Linked DNA regions of Homo sapiens. The protein of the gene in region 1 interacts with the protein of each later gene in a biochemical or structural test. Each region holds a gene or a part of one and is shown on either strand. Other genes may lie near its edges.

Region 1 (7,026 bases):
AGAAAACAGAAGCCCAGAATTCCCGCTGCACACCCATGGTAGAACTGCAACCAGGACATGAGCCTCCTGACACCCCTAAAAGCCATGCAGCCTTCTGCCGTGAGTGGGGAAGGGGTCCAGGCATGGCTGAGGTTTGGGAGAAGGAGGTCCGCAACTGGGCACTGGGGGACCTGGCAGCCCAAGGCTACCTTCTGCACACAGACCCAGCCTTCTGCTCTGAGGGGCCCAGGCCCTAAGCTGCACGATGGCCACCACCCACACTTCCATACCCAGACCAGCTGCAGCGGCCTGGCCAGGATGATGGGCGCTCCTGCCCAACTGCAATTTCCCAGCTGCTGCAGAGTTAATCACCAGCCTCACTGGCAGTTGCTTCCGGCTTCTATGCAAAGGAAACTGCCAATTAGGTTATAATTAATTTCTTTCCTAGGGCAAGGCCTGGCTGAACAGGACTGGCCACCCAAGTGGCCTGTGGATGACCATGTAAGGGTCACTGGCCCCCTTGGCTGCAGGGCTGTAGAGTCTGCCCCAGCTGATTACATTGTTCACTGGCCCTGGCCTGGGGCAACGGGGCCAGGGCATCACCACTGGCTTTGACCCTGGTGCCTCTGGCCTGGGCAACTGTCCCCATGCACTCAGCAAGGCAGTGACTCAGATCATGTCCATGTGCAAATTTAAGTCAATCTGTCAGCTCATGTTCCTCAAGCTGAGATGGTCTTGCCCATTTTCGCCCTACCCCAGCCCCTTCTCATCCCTGTTCAACATTAACCAGTAGGAATCCACGGTGTGCTCCTCATGAGCAGGTCTGCTCCGGGCGCTTCATCTGCATCACCCACTGCATCAAAACAACTGTCAGAGGTAGGGACCATGAGGATTCCCATCTCACACAGGAGGAAAATGAGGCAGCACTAGCTTAGGTACCCTGCTGGAGGCCACACAGAGGCTAGGAATTAAGCTGCAGTCTGGCCTGGGCTTCTCTGTTCAGTGACAGGCATGCAGAGAAGCCGAGGCACCGTGAGCTACCACCCCTTCTGCATTGGGCTGCAGAGTAGAAGCTGGGCTCTCCCTGGAGAGAGGACACAAAAAAGGCTTGAGGGTCTGCTCTTAAGAGCAGTGGAGAGCAGAGGGAGAGAGCCAGGAGCCTCTGAGACAGTAGGTTTCAGCCCAGCACAGACCTGGGGCCAGACAAGCTGACAATCCTGATGCCCCAGGTCACAGCCAGGCAGCCCGATGCGGGGGCACCACCTGCATCTGGATGCTGTTATCCAGGTCCTGGGAGCAAAGACCTCAACATCAAGGGTGAAGAAGAATCCAAACCCAAGGCTGGGGATGCCATGCAGGGAAGGGGATGCCCAGGGAAGTGGTGCCAAGTCTTCATCTGACACTACCCCCATGTGTGACAACTCACGCCTCCCTCAGGGCCTCGATTTCTCCCTGTGTAAAATGAGAGGTTTGCACTGATGTGTAAGCTCCTCTCAGCCGAGGTCCTCATGCCCTTTGAGTCCACGTGATGTCTATGCAGGAGTATCCACAGAATGAGCTCCTGACCAGGGGCCGAGGGGCAGACGGTGGCCGAGATGGAAATCAGGACAGGCTCTGGCCTAGGTGGCCCCTGGGGGGTGAGGGACATGGGGCCAAAACAGGATTAAGACTGCAAGTGTCCTCCCAGGCCACTGACGATGAGGCAAGAAGACAAAGGCCTAGTCCAAAGGAGAGAGTTCAGCAGCAGAAAGGAGAGAGTTCAGCAGCAGGAAGGAGCAGAAACGCAGGGCAGAGCGGCCCAGCCCATGCCCCTGTGCTTCCCCGCTGTTTGCCAGGGCTGGGCACTTGGCTTCCCTGGCTCTGTCCCTAGCTGCGAATGGGGACAGGAACTCCTCCTTGGGAGCACAGAGTGCCTGCCTATGGATGCCAGTGTTCCACCCCCACCAAGCAGATTTGCAGGAGCCCACAGAGGCTGCCTGCCACCCTCGGTTCAGGGCCCCCCAGCTCCATGCTGGCCTCCAGAGCTGCCTAGGTGCATCCACCGCTGTCCTGAGAAAACTGCCCCAGGGCCTGGCAGCATGACATCACACCACGGCAATGATGATAATCAACTTACAGCGGATCCGATTATCAGCCTGGTTATTTTTAGAGTCAGGGTTCAGGATGAGCGAGAGAGGGCGGCCCTGGTTCCCCTGCTGCTGAGTCTCGTCTTGTCAGTGGGGTGGGGGTCTGCTGGCTCCTTGCACCTTCCCCTTCCTCCATCCTTCACAGGGCGGTTCCTGAGAGGCCCCTTCTTATGCACAAGCAGTGACACCATGGTTTCCAGATGTTGGTGCTCAACGTGGCCTCAGAGTCCAGGTCTTCCGAGAATGTCCTCAAGGTCCTCGAGGGCAGTGGTGATTCAATGCCCATGTGAGGAATCAGACGAATCCACACTCTCCTCACAAGGGACCTGGGGCTCAATCACTGACAGTGACGGCCCTGGATAAAGCTGCTTCTCTGCAGCTCTTGATGCAGATGCAACAGCAAAGTCAGCTGTATGGCAAGACAGCCATCTAGTTAGACAACAGGCAGAGGGCTCGAAGAGATGCTTCTCCAAAGAGACATGCAACTGGCCAGCATGCACAGGAAAAGATGCCCAGCACGCCATCACCGGGGAAAGGCAAACCAAAGCCACAACGAGCTAGCACTGTGCACTGGCTGCACGGCCAGAGTGAGACATGAACCAGAGAATAACAGAGAATAATGCGTGGTGGTGAGAATGTGGATAGATTGTAACCCTTGGGAATGTAACACAATTCAACCACTGTGGAAAACAGTTTGGCGGCTCCACAAAATATAAAACAGAATTACCTAGCGATTTCATGTCCAGGTATGTACCCAAAAGAACTGAAAGCACGAACTCAGGTATTTATAACAGGAATGTCCCTGGCAGCATTTTTCATAACTGCCAAAAGGTGGAAAGCACCCACGTGTCCATCCCCAGATGAATGGGTGACGGCACACTATTTACCCCTCACAGGAAGGGGCTGATGTGTGCCACAGCCTAGAGGAACCCTGAAGACCTTATGCTGAGTGAAGCCAGACAACAGTCCATGCAGATGAAATGTTCCAGGACAGGCCAAGCCGCAGAGACAGAACGCAGGCTGGGGGTTGCCCGGGGACAGGAAGCAGCTGTTTAATGGGTATGGGGTTTCCTTTTGGGGTGATGCAAATTTTTTGGAACTAAGGCAATGCCTGTTCAATGCTGTAAATGTGCTAAATGCCACCAAATGGTTCACTTATAAATGGTTAAACTTATGTTACACAAATTTCACAATTAAAAAAGAGTAAACCATAATTATTTGCTACCCTGTTTCCCCCTCTGTCCCCCTCAGCTGCTGGGCCCGCCAGGAGCCCCTGCTATGTGGACCAGGACAAGGGATGGAGAGCTGGTAGGCAGAAGTGTGTGCAGGTACACCCCTGCGTGCCCCCATCCCCGCGTCCTCTGTACTTGAAGCCTCCTGGGGTGAGAACGACCATGTGACAGGATCCCACGGAACACAGGGAAAGTGACGGTGGCCCCCTCCCAGGCCTCAAAGCTCCTTAAGCCTCAGGCTTCTTGAAGCTCTGTGCCCTCCTGTGCACATAGCCAGGCACAAGGGCTGGGAGGTGTGGCCACCCAGTGGGTAAGGGCCATGCCAGGCTATGCCACAAGAAGGACATAGTAGATGGCGTTAAGCCCCTGAGACTGGGGGGCATTCCTGTCACCAAGTACAGTCTCACATGCCCCTGCATATACAGGTGGTGGGGAGGCTAGGGGAGCAAAGACAATTTGAGGCTTTCCCGGGTCACGAGTTTTCAAGGTGCTGTGGGGCATCCTGTATGTGACCTGCCAGAGGAGTCTCCTGCAGAGACAACCTGTGGGCTGCCCACCGGTGCTGGGTCCCATAGCCAGGCTGGCCCCTTACGATGGCAGAGCAATGTGCCCATGTCACCAAGCGCCCATGAGCCCCGTTGTTTCCCTGGGTGAGGAGGGCCAGGCCCAGAGCCCCACTTGGGCTAAGTGTTAGGCTTCCTGGGGCTGGCAGACGCCCTACAGGCAATGGTGGTGGAGCAGGAAGGGGAACAGAGCAAGAGGAAGCCCCTGGCCCCTAGCCCAGCAACAGCTGCCGGGTCTGTGCCAGTTGCACTGCCAAGTAGTATGAGGAAGAAACCCAATGAGCCCTCTCCCTCCCTCCAGAACTGCACCAGCTCATGCTGCACCTCCAGCTCACCCACCCTCGTCCCGGCACCCAGAGCACACATCTCCCCAGTCATTACTTAAATTCTAGGAAATACATGTTTCCTTTTTCCCTCTCAGGAACACAAGGGCGAGAATCCTCTGGAGTCACAGGCACACAAGGGAACTGGAAACAGCTTGGTGGCCACTGTCCTGCTCCTGCCCTGGGGCCACACTGCCCCTCAGGTGCTTCCTTGGAACCCTGGCTCCTGCAGGGCATGGAGAGCAGCAGCACAGAGGAGCAAGGGCCAGGAGTGGAAGCGCAGCTGCAGCACCCGAATCTGGGAGGGGGTCTAGAACCTGGGGCTGTAGGGCCACAGGTTCTCCCCTGAGCACAGAGCCCCAGCACCAGGCCCTCCAGGTATCCCTGATATCAGGGAGGAAAGCCTATGCCCGCTGGTCCACCAGGTAGGCGCACACCTGTCCAGGTGCAGCGGTGACCTTTCTGTGGTGGTGCCTGGGCTGCTACACTTTGTGGAGCCACTCCTTGAGGCAAAAGCAAACAGAGGTGTTTGCTTGGAGCTGGCCACCTGCTCCCTCCAGGGCCAGGTGCGACCTGAACTGCTGTCCTTAAGGTCCTGCTGGCACCATCTCCCTGCCCCAGGCTTTTCAGGGGCCAAGAGCCCAGCCAGGAGGAGCTGTGGGAACAAGGACAGCTTGCTGCCTGCTCTTGCCCAGCCCTGCCCTGCCTGCAGTCTCAGGGTGGACAGTTCAGGGACCCACAGGCTTCATGGCCTCTAGGCTTGGGGAATGGAGGGGAGCGGGGTCCCTGAGGCCCCCATGATCACACAGCTGCGGGACCAGAGCTCCATGGAGGTTCAGGCCTCATTGTCTCAGCGCCAATCCAAGTGCCCAGGCCTGGCCCCAGAGCTCAGAGAAGGGGGGAGAAAGCAGAGAGGTAAAGCAGGACCTCAGGGGCTGCCAAGTGTCCCAGAGCCTTGGTCAGGAGAAGGCCCGTCCTCCAAAGTTCTCCTATGAGAGGTACAGCCTGCCTCAGGGGACAAAGAATCAAGCACCAAGGCTTCGCCTCAATCCCTGAGCCGGCCCTGGCTGCTGTTCTAGTGGGGGAGCCAGAGGGGCTCTGGTGGGCCTGGGGCCTTCTCCCCTTCCAGCCCCAAGGGGTGCAGTGCCTGGGTCATGGACCCCAAGGGACCTCCCCATTTGACCTCATAGTCCCACTGACTGGCAGCCTCCCAGGGGCCATGGGGTGCTCCCCTACCCCATGGGGCACAGAAGACGGCTCTGGCAGGCCCAGGTGCAGACGGGCACGGAGAGACAGCCCTGGTGCCATCATCACCTTCTCTGTGACCATGACTGAGGTGTGCTCCCTGCCTGGTGGTCACTGCCCAGTCCCCGCCCCTTGCCACACACGCATGCGGAAGTCCCTACACAGGGTCTCCTTGACTACGGTCTCTCCCTGCCATGAGACAGCTCTGGAGAGTCCCCAGCCCTAGAGCAGCAGGGCAGGAGCCGAGGCTCCCTCAGGAGTGCTCCCAGCCTGCTGTTGTTACTATTATTGTTACTGTTATTGTTACTATTAAGTCACTCTGCTGAAAAATAATTGCAGAGGAGTGGGGAGATAGAGGGCACAGCAGAGAACGGGGAGGGAGCATAACCTGGCACCAGGAAGCAGCCTCCAAAGAAGGAAGGGGGGATGGGGGGGGCCCACTTCTGGGGGAGGGGCTCCTGAAGTGGAAAGGAAGTGCCTCTGCAGGAGGGGAGGAGGGCAGCAGGGAGCATGGGGGGCTGCACCCTGCTTTGCCCCTATTCCCTGGCTTTCTTCTCCCAGGCTGTCCTGGAGGATGGGAAAAATGAGGAGGAAGGCCCTGTCCTGCATGAGGAAACACAGCTGTACCCCCATCCCTGATGCCCAAACCCCATCCCTGCACCCTTGTCTTCAGAGCAGTAGCTTCCATCCGATGCCAGGGCCTCAGGCATATGTTGGCTGCAAGGGCCACAGCCTGGTGTCCCAGCCGAACATCTGCACCGCCACTGGCAGCAAGATGCCTTCCTGCCATCCACAGAGCACACACAGTCGGCCCTTCTGCTGGCACAGCCATGCCTGGTGCTCCTCCCCAGACCCATAGGACTCCCAGACATCAACTAAAGCTGACGAGACCCAGAGAGTATCTCAGCGTCTGTGCATGGTGCCACACATTACTCTGGGATCTGGGCTGGGATGTCCTGAGGGCACCTGGAGCCCGAGGTGGGGGGACTCACCAGTGGGTGGGCAGGCTCAGGGCAACCTCCCTGGAAGCCCTCCTTAGCCCCACCCTGGACCCACACCACTGGCCCAGAGAACGGGCTGGAGCAAGCCAGAGGGCCAGGGCTGGGGAGCTCCCGCATCCTCTCTACCGGTTCGAGTCCATAGGCTATGAGAACCTGTTTCCTCACCTGTGAAATGGGCCAAGACCATGACCCTTGCAGACTTGTTGGAAAAGATGAAGTGAGTAGGCACAGCACAGGGGCAGTGCACTGTGAGCCCCCATGGGGTGCTACTGCTGGTATTAGCCTTATCCAGTTAAGACGAGGGGACCTAGAGGGTCTTCGGCCAGGCTGCAGAGGGGGAAGGTCTCAGGGGAGATGGCAGCTTCCGGGCCTTCCCTTCCCCTTGGCACCCCAGGTTCCATTTTAACAGATATCATAATTTTTAATTGGTTTTCTCCTCCACTGGCTAAAAGGCTATTAGCTCCCCGCTAGGTGATCGCATCCCATTTTCTTCACACCACCAAGGAAACAGTGATTTCCTCAGCCTGTCCCTAAAGTGATTCTGCAGAAGAAAGGCA
Region 2 (7,026 bases), on another chromosome or scaffold:
GTGATGACTGTCTTTCCACCTCTCCCTCAGGGAGCAGCTGCCCACCCTGACAGTGAGGAGCAGCAGCAGCGGCTGCGGGAGGCAGCTGAGGGGCTGCGCATGGCCACCAATGCAGCTGCGCAGAATGCCATCAAGAAAAAGCTGGTGCAGCGCCTGGAGGTGAGGCTGGGAGTTTCACCAGGAGCAAGAGAGAGTGTGGGTGCTGTGGGAGGAATGAACTGAAAGGGAGGTGCGGAGAGTAAGTTAATACGTCCTTGAGGCATAACCTGGGCAAGGTAGGCCAGGGACTGGGCTGGGCATGGGAATCCATGGGCTTGGTCTGACTACTCTTGTCTTCACAGCATGCAGCCAAGCAGGCTGCAGCCTCAGCCACACAGACCATCGCTGCAGCTCAGCACGCAGCCTCTACCCCCAAGGCCTCTGCCGGCCCCCAGCCCCTGCTGGTGCAGAGCTGCAAGGTAAGACTCTAGGAAGGATGTGGGAGTGGAAGAGGGAGACTTGTGGGTCTCTTATGACATTTTCACCTACAGGCAGTGGCAGAGCAGATTCCACTGCTGGTGCAGGGCGTCCGAGGAAGCCAAGCCCAGCCTGACAGCCCCAGCGCTCAGCTTGCCCTCATTGCTGCCAGCCAGAGCTTCCTGCAGGCAAGGCACCCCCTCTGCACTTCTCTGACCTGACCTTCCCACCTTTCTAAGCTTCCATCTCCCACAGTTTGAATCTCTGCCAAGAGCCTCTTTCCCAATACCAAGCCCCAGTGTTCCCTACATCCTGACCATCATCAGTCCTTGTACCCAAGCCCAGAGGGAGGATGGCACACTTCATCCACCTGCCTATTCCCCAACAGCCAGGTGGGAAGATGGTGGCAGCTGCAAAGGCCTCAGTGCCAACGATTCAGGACCAGGCTTCAGCCATGCAGCTGAGTCAGTGTGCCAAGAACCTGGGCACCGCGCTGGCTGAACTCCGGACGGCTGCCCAGAAGGTATGGAAGCTGGTTCTGGCTTTGGAAGATGAGGCTGGAGTCCTGTGATGAGAGGAAATCTGTGCAGAATAACCCAATACGCAGATAATTGTGTAATCAGAGGCATTGGTGAGACACAGCAGGACCTTCTACACCCAAAACCCCTTTCTTATCATAGGCTCAGGAAGCATGTGGACCTTTGGAGATGGATTCTGCACTGAGTGTGGTACAGAATCTAGAGAAAGATCTACAGGAAGTGAAGGCAGCAGCTCGAGATGGCAAGCTTAAACCCTTACCTGGGGAGACAGTAAGTATGTTTAAGACCTCATTCTTACTCAAATCCTAAAGTCTTCCTTCACCTCCGTGCCCCAGAGCTGCTCAAAACCTTTCCTTCCTTCCTTTTTCTTTTTTCTCTTTCTCTCTTTTATTTTTCTTTTCTTTCTTCTTCCTTCCTTTTTTCTTTCTCTTTCTCTCTCCTTCCTTCTTTCTTCCTTCCTTTCTTTTCTTCCTTTCCTCTCCTCTTTCTTTTCTTTTCTCTTTTCTTTTCTTTTCCGTTCTTTTATTTCTTTTTCTTTCTTGATGGAGTCTCGCTCTGTCACCTAAACTGTAGTGCAGTTGTGCAATCTCAGCTCACTGCAACCTCTGCCTCCTGGGTTCAAGCCATTCTCCTGCCTCAGCCTCCTGAGTAGCTGGGATTACAGGCATGCACCACCACGCCTGGCTAATTTTTGTATTTTTAGTAGAGATGGGGTTTCGCCATGTTGCCCAGGCTGGTCTTGAACTCCTGACCTCAGGTGATCCACCTGCCTCAGCCTCCCAACGTGCTAGGATTATAGGTGGGAGCCATCGCACCCAGCCCAAAACATTTATTTAAATTGCCACCTGTCCCCAAGTACCTTCTCAGGTTCCTTCTCCTCACCTTCTCCTTTCTCAAGCCCAATTCTTCCCCCTTCATCCTTAGATGGAGAAGTGTACCCAGGACCTGGGCAACAGCACCAAAGCCGTGAGCTCAGCCATCGCCCAGCTACTGGGAGAGGTTGCCCAGGGCAATGAGAATTATGCAGGTATGTGGGCAGAGAGCCAGGCATGGGGCATATTGTGAGGGAGGTAGGAAAATGGGAGCTGGATGAGGGATGGGACTGACAGACGAAACCACTGGAATCAGGGCCTGGCAATGAAAGCACCTTCCCTTCCCTCTTTCTCCTCATCTCCCAAGGTATTGCAGCTCGGGATGTGGCAGGTGGGCTGCGGTCACTGGCCCAGGCCGCTAGGGGAGTCGCTGCACTGACGTCAGATCCTGCAGTGCAGGCCATTGTACTTGATACGGCCAGTGATGTGCTGGACAAGGCCAGCAGCCTCATTGAGGAGGCGAAAAAGGCAGCTGGCCATCCAGGGGACCCTGAGAGCCAGCAGCGGCTTGCCCAGGTCAGATACTGGGAAAGGGCCACTCCCTCTCCCCCAGGTTCCTTCATAAGGCCCACCCTGATTGAGGCCAAAGCTTCTGAGCCTCGTCCACACTCACAGAGTGATGTCTTCTTGGGTCTGCTCTTGACAGCCCCTCTGTGGATTCCACCCTTATGTTCTCTTAGTCTTTTTTTTTTTTTTTTTTTTGAGACAGAGTTTTGCTCTTACTGCCCAGGCTGGAGTGCAATGGCGCAATTTCGGCTCAGTGCAGTCTCCGCCTCCTGGGTTCAAGTGATTCTCCTGCCTCAGACTCCCTAGTAGCTGGGACTACAGGCATGCGCCACCACACCCAGCTAATTTTTGAATTTTGTTTTAGTAGAGACAGGGCTTCACCATGTTGGCCAGGATGGTCTCGATCTCTTGACCTCGTGATCTGCCCCCCTCGGCCTCCCATAGTGCTGGGATTACAGGCGTGAGCCACTGTGCCCGGCCCTCTTGGTCTTGTAGAAGTGTCTCAGTTGGATTCAGTCATGGGCTGAGCTAAACACCAAGTTTGGGGAAGTTTAATTACTGTCACTTGAAACCCTAACCTCAGCCTGTTCACCTACAACGCCCCCTTTCTTTTTTCACTTTCAGAGGCAGTAGAGCTAGTCATCTCCCATGTCGCGTGAATGGAGGCGATCTCTCAAATTCTTTTCACTTGGGCAACCCTGTCTCCTTTCTCACCCCAGGTGGCTAAAGCAGTGACCCAGGCTCTGAACCGCTGTGTCAGCTGCCTACCTGGCCAGCGCGATGTGGATAATGCCCTGAGGGCAGTTGGAGATGCCAGCAAGCGACTCCTGAGTGACTCGGTAGGAGGACGGTAGGGGGTGGGGGAACGTAGGAGTCAAAGAATGCCAGGCCTCTCCTTCCTCCCTCTCGGTTGTCCTTTGACCCTGACTTCCCAGATCTGTCCCCTTTCATTACTCCCAGGCTATGTGCCCACCTTTTCAGCCCTCCTTTACCAGACTTCTCCCTGCATCATTCCCCACTCTTCTGTCTGACTTCCCCTCTCACCTTGCAGCTTCCTCCTAGCACTGGGACATTTCAAGAAGCTCAGAGCCGGTTGAATGAAGCTGCTGCTGGGCTGAATCAGGCAGCCACAGAACTGGTGCAGGCCTCTCGGGGAACCCCTCAGGACCTGGCTCGAGCCTCAGGCCGATTTGGACAGGACTTCAGCACCTTCCTGGAAGCTGGTGTGGAGATGGCAGGCCAGGCTCCGGTATGAAGAGGCAGAGGGTCTGGTTGAATGGTTCCCACTAAGGGTTAGATAGGAGGCAGTTGAGTGACCAGTCCTGACTTGCTCCTGGCTCCCTTCCCTCCCCAGTCTCTAGCACTACTTGAGTGTCTGGGAAAGAAGATCCCTTTTAGAGACAGATAAGAAAGGACAGGACAATGCATTGACCTTGTCACCTTCAACAGAGCCAGGAGGACCGAGCCCAAGTTGTGTCCAACTTGAAGGGCATCTCCATGTCTTCAAGCAAACTTCTTCTGGCTGCCAAGGCCCTGTCCACGGACCCTGCTGCCCCTAACCTCAAGAGTCAGCTGGCTGCAGCTGCCAGGTAAGTAGTTGCTGAGAAGCCCAGCCCTGGACTGTGTGAGAGAGACTGGGGAGCAGGCAGTTCATGAGAGCTTCTTGGCTTAGGAATGGTTATAGGCAAAAGATAAATACTTACATAGGACCCAGGAATGATGACCTATTCACCTTTTCACTCAACTTTCTGTCACTCCCAGGGCAGTAACTGACAGCATCAATCAGCTCATCACTATGTGCACCCAGCAGGCACCCGGCCAGAAGGAGTGTGATAACGCCCTGCGGGAATTGGAGGTAGACACATGGCAGGCTGATGGCATTGAGGTTGAGGGAAGTGTTCTGGTTTTGGGCCTGAGGGAGGTGTCTTGGATCTCACTTTGCCCTCCCCCTACACAGACGGTCCGGGAACTCCTGGAGAACCCAGTCCAGCCCATCAATGACATGTCCTACTTTGGTTGCCTGGACAGTGTAATGGAGAACTCAAAGGTCAGCACAGCCAGGAACTCGGAGGAGAGAGGGCAGTAGGATGGAGCTAACCAGATGCTGCCCTGGGGTTCTGAGGACATGCTCTGACTCCCCTGATGTCCTCTGTTCCTCAGGTGCTGGGCGAGGCCATGACTGGCATCTCCCAAAATGCCAAGAACGGAAACCTGCCAGAGTTTGGAGATGCCATTTCCACAGCCTCAAAGGCACTTTGTGGCTTCACCGAGGCAGCTGCACAGGTTATTTTCCTGAGATGGGTTCTTTGAATGGCCCCTACTTTCTTTACCCCATTTTCTCTCAGCCTGACATACCTGTAGATAAATCAAGAAGTTTATGTTTGCAAAGCCAACTCTATGGAATCTGGGTTGTCCTCCTCCTGAAGTGGAGACACTTGTCAGCAATTACTGAACACCAGCAGTTCTGATTTCTGTAATTCCTGAACCCTGGTACTTTGGTTAGGATTACACTGCCCAACCGTGAGGCCTTTTCCAGCTGGCTTTCTCAAAATATACTAATTAGCTTATACAAACTATTTTTTCATGTTATTACTACTTTCTTTTTTTTTTTTTTTTTTTTTGAGACAGCGTTTCGCTCTGTCGCCCAGGCTGAAGTGCAATGGCGTGATCTAGGCTCACTGCAAGCTCCGCCTCCCGGGTTCACGCTAGTCTCCTGCCTCAGCCTTCCAAGTAGCTGGGACTACAGGCGCTCACCACCACACCCGGCTAATTTTTTGTATTTTTTTTTTTTTTTTTAGTAAAGACAGGGTTTCACCATGTTAGCCAGGATGGTCTCGATATCCTGACTCGTGATCCACCTGCCTCGGCCTCCCAAAGTGCTGGAATTACAGGCGTGAGCCACCGCGCCTGGCCTGTAATCACTACTTTCTTTTTTTTTTTTTTTTTTTTTTTTTTTTGAGACCGAGTTTCGCTCTGTCGCCCAGGCTGGAGTGCAGTGGCGCGATCTAGACTCACTGCAAGCTCCGCCTCCCGGGTTCACGCCATTCTCCTGCCTCAGCCTCCCGTGTAGCTGGGACTACAGGCGCGCGCCACCATGCCCGGCTAATTTTTGTATTTTTAGTAGAGACGGGGTTTCACCGTGTTAGCCAGGATGGTCTCGATCTCCTGACCTCGTGATCCGCCCGTCTCGACCTCCCAAAGTGCTGGGATTACAGGCGTGAGCCACCGCGCCCGGCCAATCACTACTTTCTTAAAATAGTACTAGTGACAAAATTTCCAGTTACTTGAGTTATCACTTAACTTTGCCTTTTCCCACATTATCAAGTATAAAACTACCTATTAGCTGTAAAGTATTTTGCTTTAGTATATGAATCCTTAAAACAAACTGGCATCATAAGAGTTCACTTCAGACTATTTTCCCTGAAAGCCTACCATCCTAGCCCTCCATCTCCACCACCTCCCTGTGCCCTGTCAGAATAGGCGCCTTGCTCTAGATGGCTTGTTTGATTTTGTTTTTTTGTTTTTTTGGTTTTTTGTTTGTTTGTTTTTTGAGACGGAGTCTCGCTCTGTCGCCAGGCTGGAGTGCAGAGGCATAATCTCGGCTCACTGCAACCTCCGCCTCCCGGGTTCAAGTGATTCTCCTACCTCAGCCTCCCGAGTAGCTGGGACTACAGGCGCCTGCCACCACACCCGTCTGATTTTTGTATTTTTAGTAGAGACAGGGTTTCACTAAACCTCTTTGTTGTTTGTTTGGTTTTTTTCCCCCCACCTTCTGAAAATGCATAGAGGAAAAAGCAAAGCTACTGTGTATTGATTGAAGTATGAATCAAACATTAGGATGTTCTTTCCATCATAAAAATGGCTTTTTAACCCCTCCCTTCCTTTCCAAATATCTGACGCATGGAGGTGCTATAAATGTGAATTAGCCTAATAACCTTCATCAGTTTTGAACTGTCTTTAAAAGAGGCTTTGCTTGTGTGCACAAAGGTGTGTATTTATATATGGCTCTCAAACGTTTTACTGCTACTTACAGTAAGCCATACTTTTCACTCTAAGACCCAACATACACAAACATATCTAAATAGAGATTGGATAAAAACCCTTGCTATGTAGTTTTCCTTTTTATTAACTTTTTTAATCTTCTGAAATGCTTGAATATACTTAATGAAAACAGGAGAGTATTTTTTTTCTTCTTTATAGTGTAACCATTGTTTGCTAATGTATCTCCACTCATGGAGAACTCTGGAAAATAAGCCCTATTCTCTAAACTTACCTCTGCTCTCTTTTGTCCCTACTATCACTATTCATTTCCCACCTGCAATCTTTATTCCTCACCCCCACCCCCTTTTCTCTTCCCAGGCTGCATATCTGGTTGGTGTCTCTGACCCCAATAGCCAAGCTGGACAGCAAGGGCTAGTGGAGCCCACACAGTTTGCCCGTGCAAACCAGGCAATTCAGATGGCCTGCCAGAGTTTGGGAGAGCCTGGCTGTACCCAGGCCCAGGTAACTCAAGGGAACAGGGACCACAGGCGAGTCTGGGAAAGGGCAGACCGACCCCGTGGAGTAGAGGGAGGTGAGGCATGTGGGAAAGAGGGCAGGGACCCATCTCTGACCTTGCACACACAGCTTCTTTTTGGGTAACTGTCTTTTTC

The links. Proteins that work in one complex are often made in the same cells at the same time.
Region 2: the proteins of RET (region 1) and TLN1 interact in a surface display test, tested with the Homo sapiens proteins (2 studies listed by BioGRID and IntAct, with this or other methods).

The regions. Positions count from the first base shown.
Region 1 is NC_000010.11:43,080,061-43,087,086, reverse strand, and holds part of RET (proto-oncogene tyrosine-protein kinase receptor Ret isoform a precursor), read right to left. Parts: intron 1-7,026. UniProt on the Homo sapiens protein: Receptor tyrosine-protein kinase involved in numerous cellular mechanisms including cell proliferation, neuronal navigation, cell migration, and cell differentiation in response to glia cell line-derived growth family factors (GDNF, NRTN, ARTN, PSPN and GDF15).
Region 2 is NC_000009.12:35,708,192-35,715,217, reverse strand, and holds part of TLN1 (talin-1), read left to right. Parts: intron 1-30; coding exon 31-159; intron 160-341; coding exon 342-458; intron 459-530; coding exon 531-644; intron 645-844; coding exon 845-979; intron 980-1,136; coding exon 1,137-1,265; intron 1,266-1,919; coding exon 1,920-2,022; intron 2,023-2,174; coding exon 2,175-2,383; intron 2,384-3,093; coding exon 3,094-3,213; intron 3,214-3,425; coding exon 3,426-3,623; intron 3,624-3,823; coding exon 3,824-3,963; intron 3,964-4,135; coding exon 4,136-4,229; intron 4,230-4,331; coding exon 4,332-4,421; intron 4,422-4,476; exon of another isoform or gene 4,477-4,534; coding exon 4,535-4,657; intron 4,658-6,733; coding exon 6,734-6,877; intron 6,878-7,026. UniProt on the Homo sapiens protein: High molecular weight cytoskeletal protein concentrated at regions of cell-matrix and cell-cell contacts. Involved in connections of major cytoskeletal structures to the plasma membrane.